Linked DNA regions of Homo sapiens: region 1 is linked to region 2. The links come from fine-mapping of genetic effects on gene expression. A gene starts in region 2. The other region holds a variant in brackets. All regions are shown on one strand. Distances are from middle to middle.

What was found. PIP is the estimated chance that this variant, and not a neighbour inherited with it, causes the effect.
Region 1: its variant is fine-mapped to the expression of ARID2 in whole blood (INTERVAL, PIP 0.96).

The regions. Positions count from the first base shown.
Region 1 is chr12:45,746,453-45,754,788 of GRCh38, reverse strand. The region is part of intron 3 of ARID2 (AT-rich interaction domain 2); the gene reads right to left. Among named protein-coding and RNA genes, the nearest start is that of ARID2, 21 kb to the right of the region's middle. The variant T/C (reference allele first, on the strand shown) is at 3,360.
Region 2 is chr12:45,724,728-45,733,063 of GRCh38, reverse strand. ARID2 (AT-rich interaction domain 2) reads right to left here and starts at 3,358. Exons shown (of 21, transcript NM_152641.4): 1 at 3,136-3,358; 2 at 2,927-3,020; 3 at 1,750-1,847. The coding sequence starts at 3,227. It overlaps LINC00938 (long intergenic non-protein coding RNA 938), which reads left to right and starts at 5,143. Exons shown (of 1, transcript NR_028408.1): 1 at 5,143-7,344. RefSeq lists silencers at 2,908-3,147, 3,658-4,077 and enhancers at 4,590-5,552, 5,128-5,847, 5,553-6,515.

The DNA of each region.
Region 1 (8,336 bases), 22 kb before region 2:
CTAAAATACACAATACTAAGTCCCTACCTCCTCAGGCTCACAGTTCACAGAAGAAACAGACAATAAAAAAGTTGTTATAGTAGTGTTTGTAATAGAGATATAAATGAGGAGGAAAGTGGGATTATAAAGAAGGATCTACTTCAAGCTGCTTGATGAGATAAGAAAAGGCTTTTTAGAAAAGGTGACATTTGTGTTCAATTTCAAAGATAGGTAGGAGTATGTCAGGCAATGAAAAAAGGAAAGGAATTCCAGACAGGGAAAATGGCACATGCAAAGGCAGAAAGGTGAGAAAAACTTGGCATGCTTGGAGAACTATAAATGGATCAGCATGGCTGGATCTAATTCTACTAACTAATTCTACCAACGTGTACTGACTGTTCATTAACCAAGCTTTAAAACAGAAAAAAAGACATAGTATCTGTCTTCAAAAGATGTGCAAGGGTATGGCAAGGAGATTAAGAATGGAAAAGTAATGAAGGGCCTTTTACGACCTACTAATATATTTGGACTTTCTTCTTTAGCAATAGAGAGCCACTGAAGAAATGTAAGCACTTACCTGCATCACTCAGCCCTCTTTTTTTATTATTTTTTTGCCTGATACTATTACTTATGCATTCAAGTGAATGAAATGCTTCTATAAGATTCAACAGTTTGTTTTTTGAAACAACTAAACCAGAATGTATTCATTCCAATGAACATTATTTTCCAAGTAATCACCTTGTTGAAATCATAAATGTATTTCAATGATACTATTAGTTAAAAATAACTTTTTAGTAGTTGCTTTAGAAATGACATCAGATATAGCCAGAAGCATCACAAATCTTAGTACTTCATCATGTTGAAAATGGCAAAAGTCACTAAGAGCTAAATTTGGCAAATAAGGTGGGTAAGCAAGTTGTTGTTATGGGGGCTCATGCCTATAATTCCAGCACTTTGGAAGGCCAAGGAGGGCAGATCGCTTGAGTCCAGGAGTTCGAGACCAGCCTGAGCAACACAGGGAGACCTCGTCTCTACAAAAAATACAAAAATTAGCCAGGCATGGTGGCACGTGCCTGTAGTCCCAGCTATTCGGGAGGCTGAGGTGGGAGGATCGCTTGACCAAAGGTTGCAGTGAGACGCAATCGCACTATTGCACTCCAGCCTGGGCGACAGAGCGAGACCTTGTCTCAAAAAAAGAAAAAAGAAACCTGGATTATGTTTTAGATCAATTACAGGATCAGCAGAAAATAATAAAAATTTGCATTTATAGATTAAACTATATACCAGACACTACATATACTAATGTATTTACCACTCAAAACAACTCTATAAGGTACACACTTTATTATCTACTTTTTACAGGTGAAACTGTGCAGAGTAACTTGCCCAAGGTCACAAAACTGACTGAATGGAGAAGGTGAAATCTGAACCCAGATAGTGTGCCTCCAGAGCCAACTCCTAAATCACTACGCTACAGACCATCATGAGGGGGGAAACACTTTTTTTTTTTTTTGAGATGGAGTTTCGCTCTTGTTGCCCAGGCTGGAGTGCACTGGCACAATCTTAGCTCACTGCAACCTCTGCCTCTGGGTTCAAGTGATTCTCCTGCAACCTCTGCCTCTGGGTTCAAATGATTCTCCTGCCTCAGCCTCCCGAGTAGCTGGGGTTACAGGCATGCGCCACCACACCCAGCTAATTTTGTATTTTTAGTAGAGACAGGGTTTCTCCATGTTGGTCAGGCTGGTTGTCTTGAACTCCCGACCTCAGGTGATCCGCCCGCCTCAGCCTCCCAAAGTGCTGGGATTACAGGCATGAGCCACCACGCCCAGCTGGAAAAAAACTTTTAATGAACAAATTTAATAAAACTTTATAGCATGACTCAAACTGACTCTTAAGAGTAAACTACATGATGTCTTTACAGAACAACAGTATCCCCGATGACTTCCTCTCAAGATAACTGTAGTGGTTGTTTTAGCTTAATTTCTGTTATGTTTGCTTAAGAAAAATCAGCCTTGGCCTGGTACAGTGGCTCACGCCTGTAATGCCAGCATTTTGGAAAGCCAAGGCAGGAGGACTGCTTACTGGCCTGGGCAACATAGCGAGATCCTGCCTCTACAAAAAATCAGCTGGGTGTGGTGGTATGAGTCTGAGTCCTAGCTACTCAGGAGAGTGAGGCAGAAGGACTGCTTGAGCTCAGGAATTCAAGGCTACGGTGAGCTATGATTATACCATTACACTCCAGCCTGGGCAACAGAGCCAGACCCTGTCTCTTAAAAAAACAAAACAGAAAACTCAGCCTTATTATTTTACAAGTGTACCTACTGAGTGTTTCCTCCCTAACTAAACATAAATCATTGAATCCCATATAGTATTTGGCACAATTAATTCAAACAAAACAAGCAGCACTAGCACTTATCATGAACCAGACACCGTGCTCTCTACCTAAGATAGAGAAATAAAGAACACAGTTCCTGTTTTTAAGGAGCTAAGATTTTAGTAGGGGAGACAGAGAGCTAGCTTATGGTAGACAGCATTTATTAAGGTTCAATCCTATGCCAAAAGACTAGAAAAAAATACGCCAAGATGTTTGTTCATGGCGTTCAATAATTTTATCTGCATATGCTAGGATATTACACTGCTTGATATTTTCCCTCCATGGATCTTCTAAATTGTGTACTATTAACACATATTATAGACTTTGATAACAGAAGAAAATTAGGTTTAAAATTGAAAAAGTATAAAACTTGGCACCTAATGGGTTATATCTGAGGTCTCTGCTAATTAAAGTCCTCAAAGTTTTATATTTGAAACTTTAGAAATATATCTAAAATATGAATACTTTTTACCATCTCAAGAGCTATGAACCTTGGTCGTACAAACTATCATTTTTCAACTGGATTACAGTCATGCACTGCAAAATGACATTTAGGTCAATGACCATATATACAATGGTGCTCCCATAAGATTATAATATCATATTTTTACTGTACCTTTTATATGTTTAGCTATGTTTAGATACACAAATACTTACCATGGGGTTACAATTGCCTACAGTATTCAGTATGTAGCATGCTGTACAGGTTTGTAGCCTAAAGCAACAGGCCATACCATATAGCTTAGGTGTGTAGTAGGCTCTACCAGCTAGGTTTGTGTAAGTACACTCTACGTTGTTCAAACAATGAAGAAATCACCTTACAACCCATTTCTTAGAATGTATCCCAGTCATAAAGCAAGAACTAACTGTATTTTCTCAGCCTTCTATCAAGACTCTTTGGTTCTACCCTTGAGCATGCAACATCTATACACAACAAAGCATCCAGACAAATCCAGATAACACTTCATTGCTCAAAATCCTCCAATGGCTTCAGTAGATGCAAAGA[T/C]CTTCCAGAGGCCCTACAAGATCTGCTCCCAGATTGTACCTCTCTGATCTATTCATCTCCACTGCTTTCCTCTGGTCTGGTCACTAATGCTAGCCACAATGGGCTCCTAAATGTTCTTTGAACATACCAAGCATACTCTCTTGCTGTTTGTTCATTCTTATCCCAAATATCCACCTGGTTTGCTCCTTTCTCTCCTTTAAGTCTGTATTCAACTCTTGCTAAGACTTTTCCAGTCCAGTTTGTCTAACGATTTAACACCCTACTCAAGCAAAAGCCATCTCCCTTTATTTGCTTTATTTTTCTCCTTGTGCTATTAGCTAGCATACTCTTATTTGTCTCCTTTCCCTCACTCTAAAGGGGAAATAATTTTTCTCTGTTCTCATCATTGATATATGTCCAGTGCATAGAGTCTAGCACAAGATACGTGATCAATTATTATTCATTAAATTAATGAATAAAGAGCAGTATTCTACATAGCTGGTAAAAGTTTGGTCTCTGGAAGCAGAAGACCTGGGTCAAATTCTAGCCCCACCACTTTGTACTTGGGTCACCTTGTACAAATTACTTAACCTTTCTAAATCTTAGTTTCCTCATTATAAAATGATGATGATGGTATTCTTATAGGGTAGTTTGGGGGATTAAAATAAAGCAGGCTGAGCATAGTACCTGGCAAATAATAAGTGTTCAATAAATGTTATCTATTATAATAATAAACATTCCCAACTCCAAAATGTCTCCAACCAAGTAATCACATCATTTGTATTAATCGTATCCATGTTTTCAAAAATAGTAGTTACTTTGCAAAATCCCTGGATCCTCACATATCAGTTTAAAACAAAGTCAATACAGGCATACTTCATTTTATTGTGCCTCATTTTATTGTGCTTTCCAGATATTATCTTTTTTAAAACCAATTGAAGGTTTAACAAGTTGAAGCAAGTCTATCGGCATCATTTTTTAAAACCATGTGCTCACTTCACAGTTCTGTGTCACATTTTGGTAATTCTCCCAATATTTCAAACTTTTTCATTATTATTATTATATCCATTATGGTGATCTCTGATCAGTAATCTTTGATGCTAATATTCTATTTGTTTGGGGGCACCCCAAACTGTACCCACATAAGAAAGCAACTTAATAAATACTGTGTGTGTTCTGACTACTCCACTGACTGGTCATTCTCCCATTTCTCTCCCTTCTCCTTGGGCATCCCTATACCCTGAGACACAACTATATTGAAATTAGGCCACAACGGCCTCTAAGCGTTCAAGTGAAAGGAAGAGTTGCATATCTCTCACTTTAAATCAAAAGCTAGAAATGATTACGCTTAATGAGGAAGGTATTTCAAAAGCCAAGATATGCCAAAAGCTAGACCTCTTGCACTAAACATTTAGCTATGTTGTGAATGTAAAAGGAAAGTTTTGAAGAAAAATAAGTGCTACTCCAGGGAACACACAAATGATAAAGTGAAACACCCTTATGGCTGGTAAGTAGAAAGTCTGAGTGGTCTAGACAGAAGATCAAACCAGCCAGACATTCCTTTAAGCCAAAGCCTAATCCAGAACAAGGTCGTAACTCTCTTCAATTCAAGGAAGACTGAGAGAAGTGAGGAAGCTGCAGAAGGAAAGTCTGAAGCTAGCAAAGGTTGTTGGTTTGTGAGGTTTACAAAAAGACGTTATCTTCATAACATAAAAGTGCAAGGTGAAGCAGCAAGTGGTGACAGTGAATCTACAGCAGGATATCCAGAAGATCTAGCTAAGGTAAATGATAGAACTGGCTACACTAAACAACAGATTTTCAACATAGATGAAAAAGCCTTCTATTGGAAGAAGATGCCATCTGAGACTTTCAGAGCTAGAAAGGAAAAGTCAATGCCTGGCTTCAAAGCTTCAAGGGAAAAGCTGACTCTTTTGTTAGGGGCTAATGCAGCTGGTGACTTTAAGTCAAAGCCAATGCTCAATGACCATTCTGAAAATCCAAGGGTCCTTAAGAATTATGCTAAATCTACTCTGTCTGTACTCTATAAATGAAACAACAAAGCCTGGATGACAGTACATCTGTTAACAGCATGGTTTACTGAATGTTTTGAGCTCAGTGTTGAAACCAGCTGCTCAAAAAAAAAGATCACTTTCAAAATATTACTGCTCACTGACAATGGTCACCCAAGAGGTCTGATGGAGATGTACAAGGAGATGAATGTTGTTTTCATGCTGCTGACACAACATCCATTCTACAGCCCATGGAACAAGGAGTCATTTTGACTTTCTAGTCTATTACTTAAGAAATACATTTTGTACAGTTATAGCTGCCACAGTGATTCCCTGGATGGAAGTGAGCAAAGTAGTCTGAAAACCTTCTGAAAAGGATTCACCATTCTAGATGCCATTGAGAACATCTGTGATTCATAGGAGGTTAAAATATGAACATTAACAGTTTTGAAGACATTGTTTCCAATCCTCGTAGATAACTTTGAGGGCTTCAAGATTACAGTGGAGGAGGTCATTGCAGATGTGCAAATGGCAAAAGAACTAGAATTAGAAGTGGAGCCTGAAGATGTGACTGAACTGCTGCAATCTCATGATAAAACCTGAATTAATGAGGAGTTCCTTCTCAGGGATGAGCAAAGAAAATGGTTTATTGAGATAGAATGTATTCTCGGTGAAGATGCTGTGAACATTGCTGAAATGACAACAAAGGATTTAGAACAGTATATAAATTTAGTTGATAAAGCAGTGGCAGGGTTTGTGAGGACTGACTCAAATTATGTTCTACTGTGGGTAATTTGCTACCAAACAGCATTACATGCTACAGAGAAACCTCTCGTGAAAGAAAGAGTTGATCGATGCAGCAAACTTCATTGTTGTCTTAAGAAATTTCCACATCCACCCCAATCTTCAGTAACCACCACCCTGATCAGTCAGCAGCCATCAATATCAAGGCAAGACCTTTCACCAGTAAAAAGATTATGACTCACTGAAAACTCAGATGATTGTCAGCACTTTTCAGCAATAAAGTATTTTTGTTTTCTTTTTTTTGAGACAAGGTATCATTCTATTGTCCAGGCTAGATGGAGTCCAGTGGCACAATCATGGCTCACTGCAGCCTCAACCTCCCAGGCTCAAGCAATCCTTCCACCTCAGCCTCCCAAGTATCTGGGACCACAGATATGCACCATCATAACCAGCTACTTAAAACATTTTCTTTTGTAGAGACAGGGTCTCACTACGTCTCAAACTCACTAGGCAGCTTGAGACTGCCTAGGTTGTCTCAAACTCCTGGCCTCAAGCAATCCTCCTGCCTCAGCCTCACAAAGTGCTGGGCCTACAGGCGTTGAGCCACCACACCTGGCCGTACATTGTTATTTGAGACATAATGCTACTGAACAATTAATATACTACAGTATAATATAAACATAACTTGTCTGTGCACTGGGAAACCAAAAAATTCACTCTCATTTTACTATCATATATATTAATGTGGTGGTCTGGAATCAAACCCACAGCATCTCTCAGGCATGTCTGTATTACTCTCTCAAATCTTACCCTACACAAGACTCTCTAGTCTCATATTGTAGCTTGTGAAGACAGATAGGGAGACATTAGTGTCTATTTTACTTAAAAACAACTTCAAGTACTGCATAGAATTGCACAAAATGACACATTTACCACAATGTTAATTAATATTCTACAACTACAACTGACTCTTGATGCTTGTTTAATAAAACCACACAAAAAAATGTTAAGCTTTAGGGACAGACGAATGAAATGCTATACTATTAATTCTGTAAGTTAGAAATTTTCAATTCTTTCAGAATTTCCCAAATTAGATTTCCCACTTGCTGAGAGGCCTACCATACCCACCTGAGTTCATAAGAAGCTCCCCAAGTGACAGGAGATCCTAATTCAGTTCAGCTACAATGTATCAGATGCCAAAAAGTGCATTGCCATTAAAAAAAAAAAATCCTTGACCCCAAGACTCTGATAGTAAACTAGGAGCAGTACACTATAACTCACAAAACTAAACTCTAATTCTGCACTAGCAATGGTACTTACAGGCTTTTTCCCTGATCTACAAGAGGATAATACCTATTTCCTAGAGTTGTTGCAAAAATCCACTGAGATAAATATTTGTAAAAATAAACTATAAACTGTACAGCAACACACACGTTATTACAAAAAGATACATTAAAGAATTTTTTAAATAAAAATAAAAAGCCACAATCCCACAACTACCCTAACCATTTTCATATTTTTATTCCCTTGAAGTCCTTATCTTCAAATACTTTTTAATAAAATTATATTCATGTGAATTGGGGGAAGACAGTATAATATGCCTAGATTCCAGGTTTAAATACTAGGTCCAGCCGGGCACGGTGGCTCACGCCTGTAATCCCAACACTTTGGGAGGCTGAGGCGGGCGGATCACAAGGTCAGGAGTTCGAGAACATCCTGGCTAACACGGTGAAACCCCATCTCTACCTAAAATACAAAGAAAAATTAGCTGGGCATGGTGGCGAGCGCCTGTAGTCCCAGCTACTCGGGAGGCTGAGGCAGGAGAATGGCGTGAACCCGGAAGGCGGAGCTTGCAGTGAGCCTCGATCGCGCCACTGCACTCCAGCCTGGGTGACAGAGCGAGACTCCGTCTCAAAAAAAAAATACTAGATCCAGAACTTACTGTGTGAACCTGGGCAAGGTTCTTAAACACCTTTGTCCTGTTTTCTCATCTATAATACCAGGATATTAACAGTATCTATGTCATAGGGAGGTGTGAAGAGAAAATGAGTTACCACTTGGTGCAGTGCCCGGCACATGGCAAATTAAATAAATGTTAGCTAAAAAAATATAAACTTAATAGTCTGCTTTTTAAAAGATTCAACATGGTATCATAAACCAAAAGTATACTATTAAAGTTTCATAAGAAAAATACTTAAAAAAAAAACTTTAGCATATGTTACATTGACTGTTTTTAAAACATATC
Region 2 (8,336 bases):
AGCTTCTAATAAGAGCAAAAAGCCCAATTTGATCTGAAGACCATGTAAATACTTACAATGTTGAAACTATATAGTTAAAAACAGTACCTATAATTAATGATATCCTCCCAAGATAAAAATGACAACTGGAAAAACAATATTTATAATTAACTTTTGTTAAAAAAAATTGGAAGCCTAGATATTAATTTGATTATGCTAAAACTATTAGTATGAATGTAAACTCTTCAGAAAAATATACATCTCATGAATCATGTATATTCTATAGTACTTTCTGGTTATAAAACTTAAGTCAATCAATCTAACAAATATGAAGCAAAACTTCAAAAATATGTATTTCAAACAGTCCAAAATTCAAATGCTTTAAACTGATAAAAACATAAAACCAGAATATGTATTAACATGTTCCTCTCAATATCATAAATAGAAATGAGCAAATGAATGTCACGATGAATATAAAACTCTCTTGTTTCTCACCCCACTACTAACTCAACGGTTTTGGAGGTTAATTTTGCTTTTTGATTTAGCCCTTTAATTTAAAATGTACTCTGACACAAATGCCATCACACACACACAATAGATGACAACCATATTTAATATTTTCTAGACTTCCTGTGTAACTCAATAACTACTCCACAAAGTTCTGCGAACTCCAGCTTCAAGCCTGAAGTCAATCTAAGATAGCCAATAGAAAGTACACCTGTGCGATTACTGCATTTCCTATTTCAGAATGCTGAACGTAATACACAATAACTGAGTGCATCTGAAGCAATAATAAATGCAAAACTCAAATTATGCAGAAGCCACCTTACAAAAAAAGGCCTGTACTATCACTATTAAAAAGCAATAAATACAAAGAATATCATTTTAGTTTTTAATAACACCAACTAACTTAGGATCCTCTAAGATAAGCACTTTAAAAATAAAACACAGCATCATGATAAATTACAGTATGAAAGTATTCCTAGAAGAAAAACTAGAGGCAAAAAAAAAAACGCTAAATCACAAAATATATCATCTAGACTGTATCACATACCAACTGAATAAGAAATTAAACTTTGCCGAATAAGCAGTCAAAGAAGAAGAGGGAGAATGAAAGAAAATCCAGATTATAGTATCCCATTTCATAGTATCCCCATTTTCCTAAAGATATAATAATTTAAATTATCTAATTTAAATTACTAATTTAAGTCACTGGAAATTCAACAAAAAGTAATTATCAAAACAATCCTGGTCACCTAAGCCACCAACATGTTATGCCATGTAGGAATATTCTACTGAAAAACCTATTCAATGACACTGTTCCAAACAAGAAGTTTCATTAAAAAAAAAAAATTCTTAAAGCCAGAATTTTTAAAACTAAAGGAGTTTCCAAAACAAAGAAAAAAATTTTCCCAAAGGTTACAAAGTTTCATTAACTATCTTAAGTCTTTTACTAAGCATCACCTTTCTGCCCCTCAGTGGGTATCAAGCGATGAATAACAATGTCACAAAAGAATGTTTACCAAGATTGGGGCTGGGGTGTCACCTGTAATGATTTTGTATGAAAAATGTAAACGATCCTGAAATTGGTGAGGAAGACTTTCACCTTCCTACAATCTCACTTTATTTATATTAAATGTGTCTCAGTCTGAAATGAACAAGAGCTTAAGAACTGTTTGGTGTGCAAGGTTTGCTTTTGTTTTTGCTAAAAACAAATCTCTCCATAAGTCCCTTATTTCCAAATACTATGGAAAAGTCACTACTACTCACCGCAAGTAATACTGTTTTAAAGCAAAGGCAGCGTTAGAACAACTTCTGGGAAAGTTGAACTCTTCAACAATTTCTCCCCACTGATTCTTCTCAGAAACCTGGTAAAACACAGGCACAGTTGTCTGAACGTGAACAATCTAAGAAAATCTTAACCTAACTATGAAATAAATACCCATTCTACAGAGATCTGTAGATACCTAAGGCATCAGTGGGTGTTTCGGATCGATCGGTAAGAGTTACTAAGCAAGGGCTTCTTGAATCACTGTGTTTTCACCAGAGAGCCCTGTATTTAATACCACTTGTTTTGTTTGGGGGTGGGGGGGTTTGGTGGGTTTGTTTTGTTTTTGAAGCCCGGACAATAACCAATCGCAAGTCCCTCTGTCGCCCCCTTTTAAATCTCAACGCGGTCCGTTTACACTAAAAAAAAAAAAAAAAAAAAAAGTTCAAAAGGATCAATACAGTTCCGGACAGCGACGTCCGCGGGTTGGGGGGGGGGCCGGGGCTGGGGCCGATTCCGATCCCTCTCCCAGATCTATCCATCTCCATAGGCCCTTCTTTGAGGCCTACAGCTTCTGCCTAGCCTTGAAGCCTAAGATGGCTATTTGGAGACAGGTCCTGGTTTCTTTTGTTAGCTGTATAAACCGAGGGCGACGGGGCCGAGGCTGTGCCCCCGGCTGCCGGGATTATTTCGCAGCCGATTATCGATGTTAAACCTGCCCGCGCTAATTTTGAGTTGCACGAAAACTGCTCTCAGAGTCTGTGTGTCTCTGTGTGTCTCCGCCTGTGCTAGAGCGGCAGCGGCGGCAGAGCTGACTCGCGAGCGAGCGGGCGGGCGGCGCGGGAGCGGGGCGGGCGCGGGGCTCAGGCTGGCGCCCCGCACGCCCGCATTCCCCGCCGCGGCGCTCAGACCCCGCCGGCCCGACCGGGCACCGGGCAGGGCGCGAGCCGGCGCCGGGCCGCCCGCCCGCCGGAGCCCCGCGCCCGCCGCGCGCACGCGAGCCACCAGGCCAAAAACAGCCCCGCCGCCGTCCGCCTCCGTGCCACCGGCTGGGAGCGAAAAGAACGCCTTTTGCCCCCGCGGGCCACCCCCCCAGCCCCAAGCGCCCACTCCGGGGTCAAAGGAGACTTTTTGGAGGAGGCCAGCGAGAGGGAAATACAAATTAAAACTTCCACTCACCTTCGCGAATCCGCCTAAAGTAGTGACTCTGGTGTAGAGACCGTGAAGATCCAGCTCCTTCCCACCCACCGCAGGGATTTTTTTAAAAGGCGACCTGCGGGAGAGAAAAAGCCCCGCACTTGTCAGCCGGGACCCCGTGCCCGGCCCGGGCGGGAGAGCCCCGTTCGCCCCGGCTCGCCCCGGCGCTGCCCCCCCGGTTCTGCTCTCACCCTCTGCTGTGGTGGAACTGCCGCAGCTCGTCCAGGAAAGCGAGTCCCTTTCTCCGCTCGTCCGGAGGCGCCTTCCCCGTCGAGTTTGCCATTATTTTTTCAAAGGAGGTTTTTAAAAAACCCAGATCGGTGTTTTAAAAGCGCCCCCCGCTCCCAGCGCTTCCTACCAGAGCCCGGAGCCCATTCCTCGGCCGGCGGCGGCGGGGCTCAGTCATGGGCCGGCGGTGGCGGCGGCGGCGGCGGCGGCGGCGGCGGCGGCGGCGCAGGGAGGGAGGGAGGGAGGGGGAGGAGGAGGAGGAGGGGAAGGAGGGAGCAGGAGGCCAGGGGGAGAGGAGGGAAGGAGGGAGGGGAATTTCTAAAAAAGTTTAAAGAAATCGGAGCGAAACTAGAAGGGCAGGCGACTGCCGGATCCGCGCGAAGCCGCGGGGCGAGCGCGGCCCCCACCCCTTCCTTCCCTCCCTCCCCGTGGCCCGGCTCTCGCCCGCCTCTCAGCGCCGCCGGCTGAGGCAGCTCAGCCCGGGGACGCGATTCAACATGGTGCTGCTGCCGGGGGCGCGCGAGCGGGCGACGGGCAAGGCGAGCCGATGGTGAGGGGTCTGGGCGGCCAGAGGCCCAAGAGTTTCGGCGGCGGCGGCGGCGGGGCTAGGGCAGGCGGGGCTGGGGGTGGGGAGGGGGAGGTCTGTGTGGTGGTTTGTGGAAAGCGCGGTGACAGCGTGTATTTCGGCCCCGGCTCCGCGGGGCCCTCGCACACATTCACGCGCGGCCTCGGCCGCTGAGGCCGGGGCGTCCCCGGGCAGAAGCACCGGCGGCAGCTGAGCCGCTGCGCGCCGCCCGCCTGCTTCCCTCCCCGCCAGCCTCCCTCTCTGCCGCCGCCACGGCCTGGCAGCCAGTGCCACACAGCGACCCCCGAGGGCTGGCCGCGGCACTGCGCCTGGCTCCACACCGCCCCGGCAGATCCTCGCGGGGAACAATAGACTCGACTCGCCGGGCTTAGGGTTCGTCTGCAATGTGCCGCACATTTCACACGCACACAAAGCCGGCGGAAAGGGGGGCGGTGCGGGGAAACGGCCACTACCGGTTGTTCCAGGGTTAGGGGTGGAGGCGATGTTCGCGTCCCCGGCCCGGCTGTTGGAAGGGCCGCCTCGGAGTCCCCGCCCGCCCGACAGAACCGGTGTGGCGCTCTGAAGGGAAAGGAAGCTCACCGGGGTAGCCCCTCACGCTACGCAACATTCACAGATCGGAATAAAGTCAATTTGTTACCTTCTGTTTTTGTAAAATCTAAAGGAATCGGCTTTTATGAGCCGTATGCTAGTATTTTGGGGCCTGGTTAGCACATTTTCTATGAATTATCCACACGCTAACTTTAGCAAACTATACGTTAAATACAATGTGAACTGTCTGTCCTAGTTCTGTGGAAATAGAGTAATGCTCTTAATTCATCTTGCCGCTGGTTGGCTTCACATATCAAACTGGAGTATTCTATGAGCAAAGTTATGCAAACTAACTAAACTGGTTGGGAAGCAATCTATCGAACTTCGACAATAATAATTAAGGTTTACATTTTTATAGTAAGGTCTCTTCAAGATTGCTGCGTTTAAAATAAATACCGAATAAAACGTTTTTCCTTGCTTTCAAATGTCTTAAATGTAATCCTCGTTTAAAATATTTTGAAGGTTAAAAAAACCCTTTGCTTAAATGAGTCAAAACATCTCAACAAATACTACCACCTAAATTTGCATTTACGAGGGGTGTTGGAGCCGGCTCTTTGCTACAAATGTTAATTAAGATTACAGTACGTGAAACGTATTATTATTCCCATTTTAGTGACGGCCACCACGGGCAAAGTCACTGCCTAACCCAAGGTCACAGGGTAGTAGGGGTCTGGATGGGTTATTTCAGGTAGTCGTTCCAATGGGAACATTGCTTTGGAGGTGAAAAATTATGTAATATAGTGCAGCTTGCTTCCGGTGCTCACTCTAGGAAACGGACTTATTTCCCAACTAAAGTTTGTCTCTTAAGTGGGGTCGGAATAAGGTTGTGGCTAGGAAGATCCTGACAACCCAGGGCCAGTGAGTGTCTCGGAAGCCTGTGAGGGGCGGAGACCCGGCCCGGGGAGGTGGAGAAGCTCGCCGGCCGCGGAAGACTAGGGGTGAGGCTGCTGCGAGGAAGACCCGGTCAGCTGTCCCTTCCCCCATCGGTCCTCTTAGGGGAAGTGGAGATGTGGGCCTCGGAGCTGCGTGGCCCGGGCTGTGCGGATTCCCTAAACGCCGCACTTGCGCACAGCCCCTTACGTAACCGTCAGTGCCGGGGATTCCCTGGAGGGGGTCATTCTATTCAACCATTATACACACCCCGGGCTCCTGCCGCCGCGCCGCCGCCGCCTCACAAAATGGCGGCGCCCATAGAGGAGACCGCGGCCGCCTCCCCGGCCCCATTTTGTGGGAGGCGAGAGATCTGTCAACATGGAAAACCTCTGCTGAGGATGCATCCGAGTTTGGAAACCCCACTTAAGGGATGGAGCCTGGGGGATCACATTAAACGGAAAATGCCAACGACTTCTACCACCTCTACGCGTTTTTAGTTTTTCATTTTCTCGAAGGAAGCGCCAGAAGCCTGTGGAGTAATTGTAACTAGAGGGAGAACGGAAAGCTGAGGTGACTGCTCCGGGGACTTGGCGCGGCGCCTTGGTGGCTTTGGTTGCTCTTCCACGCTCCCGGCAGCTGACCAGAATCTCTTGGAGGGTCTCCTGGGCCACCTCGGCCGCGCCAGTCGTGCAGTGAGACTTCTGTAGTTTTAAAATGCCACAGTCCACGGCCCGGTCGGCACCGCTCGCCTGAATCGTGGGCTTTGGGAACCTTGGAGGCTGCTGCTCCAGGAACTCGCGGTCGGCCGGGAGCCGGGGAGCTTCGTTGCTGGGAGCGGGCGGTATTCGCGGACTCCGGCGGCCCTGGCGGGTCGCGGCCGGGATCCGAGCCGGGGATGACGATGCTGATGGAGCTGATGGGGCAAGAGTGGGAACGGAGGCACGTACACTGAAATTTAAGTCATCCAAGTTGGGACTTAAGATAGCAGGTTAATATTGTCTCAGGCGAGACTTAGAACGTCTTTTCTGGTATCCCAGTCTGCAGTGGGCAAATCTATTGTCTTTATTTCTCATTTAAGGGCAGAATGGAGGGATGACATATTTTTACTTTTCAAGAGGCGGTTGCCACTTTTAAGTCACTGTTGTGTGTGTGTGTGTACATACACAAACATACGATAGTGTGTTTTCAGAGCAAGTATCAAAGGCTAAAGACTTGGAGTGATACTAGTGTTTAAAAGCCTTTTTAAAAAAATTAAGATGTGATGAGAAACTGGAGAATTGACTTTTAAAAATTTCTTTTCTGTAGAAGAGGCTATCTTCAAAATGGAGTCCTAAAGTATATCTGATGGATAGAATTTAAATTCTTAACACTGTATATACCCTGTGGTCAAAAGCATCAACGTAAAACTTGATGTTTATCAGATTACTTATGTTTCAATTTTCCTGTGGTTAGAAAAATTAAGACAGAAGTAAGCTATTAACGGTATTTGCTTGTAAGAGTAACGTTAAAGGTTTAAGGAAAGGTTTGTTGAAATCGATATGCATCACACGAATCATTTATTTTCAATGTTGTTTTCCAGTTGCAGCAATCATTTGTGTTTACATGACTTTGAAAAAGGGTTTAGTTTATGTTGATTTTGACCCTCTTATTTAATCTCTAGTGCAGAAGTGCAGCTTTCTGCAGGCTGCGCCTCAATCGCTAAGTTCCACTCTCCATCCTCTGCCGCGCTACTCCTGGCATGTGGATCACCAAGATACAATTTCTGGTCCTGTCTGTTCTTATTGATGTCCTTTACAGTTAATAAATTTGATTGCCACTAATCAGTCTGTATCTCTTGCAAAAACACCACATTTAGCATCCAAGTAGAGTCAGAGTATGTTTTTTATGAGATTGTACTAAAGTAACCTTCTATTACATTTCTTATTACCATATTGCATTTCCTATAGTGGGCAGCATAGAGCAGGTGGATCCTGACAAAGTAATGTTAGAGATGTGCTGACAGCTTTACAATAGATATTCTCCAACTAATTTGACAAGATATAAAATAAAATGTAGTTCGTAGTTTTCAAGCATTAATGGAAAGTGTTCCTATTAAAAAATTACCAATAACAGTGGAAATTGTTGCAATCCAATTTGTATAGTTTACTGTTTTGATGACAAAGCGCTTATGATGGGAAAAATGTAGTGTTGCTTTTGTAACTGCAAACGCTGCACGCCGTAATTAGAGGTTTATGTTATTTTATTTGAATTTTTCATTCTTACCATCAGTTTTCATATTAGTCAGGAAATTGTGATAAATTAAAAATTCCCTCATTCAACTAAACCTTAAAAAACTGTACCCAGTTTCAAATCAAGCATTATCAGGTGTATGATTACAACAGCTGAAATAAATTGAGGAATTGGTATGCCAACTCAGTGGAGAAATTTTGGGATTTTAGGTCACTCTAAGATTTAAAAAAATAGTTTGATTCGTTAAACAAGGCTATTGAAGTTAAATTGATATTTCCTTAAAGATGATTTTAGAGAAAAATTCCTTGGCGAGCTTCGAGAATGCGTTCATGGCTTCTGTTGCCTGTACCTACTGCTATACTTTTTTATGTGGACTAATTTGTCTTATTTGAAAATTTGATTACAATATCAAATCCTAGATGAAGCCCTTCCATTCTTAGGGTGATTCTAAGGAGTACTGATAACTAAGCTCTTAAAAGGCGAGGAAATAGTTTATTCTACTGCAGATTAGGGTAATCTTAATACAGACACTCTGATGGTAATTCTAAGCAGTGTTGATAACTAAGCTTTTAAAAGATAAGGAAATAGTTTATTCTACTTCAGAGTAGGGTAATTTTAATGCCCTGAATATACTCTGAATCTTTTATAGATAGATTTCTGGATGATTTGGCCCAAAAAATCTGATAAGCTTTGGGGAATTTTTTAATTTTTTTTTCTCTTAAAGAGAAATCAGAAATGTGGGATTTTTTTAAAAATTTATTTTCAGTAGATATTGGAGATTATGCTTTGTACATTAAATCCAGTTTGATTTTTAAGTGATAATTTTCAATTAAAGACTTTTTAATAAGACAACTAAAAAATTAAATTTTAGTCAATTACAATAATATT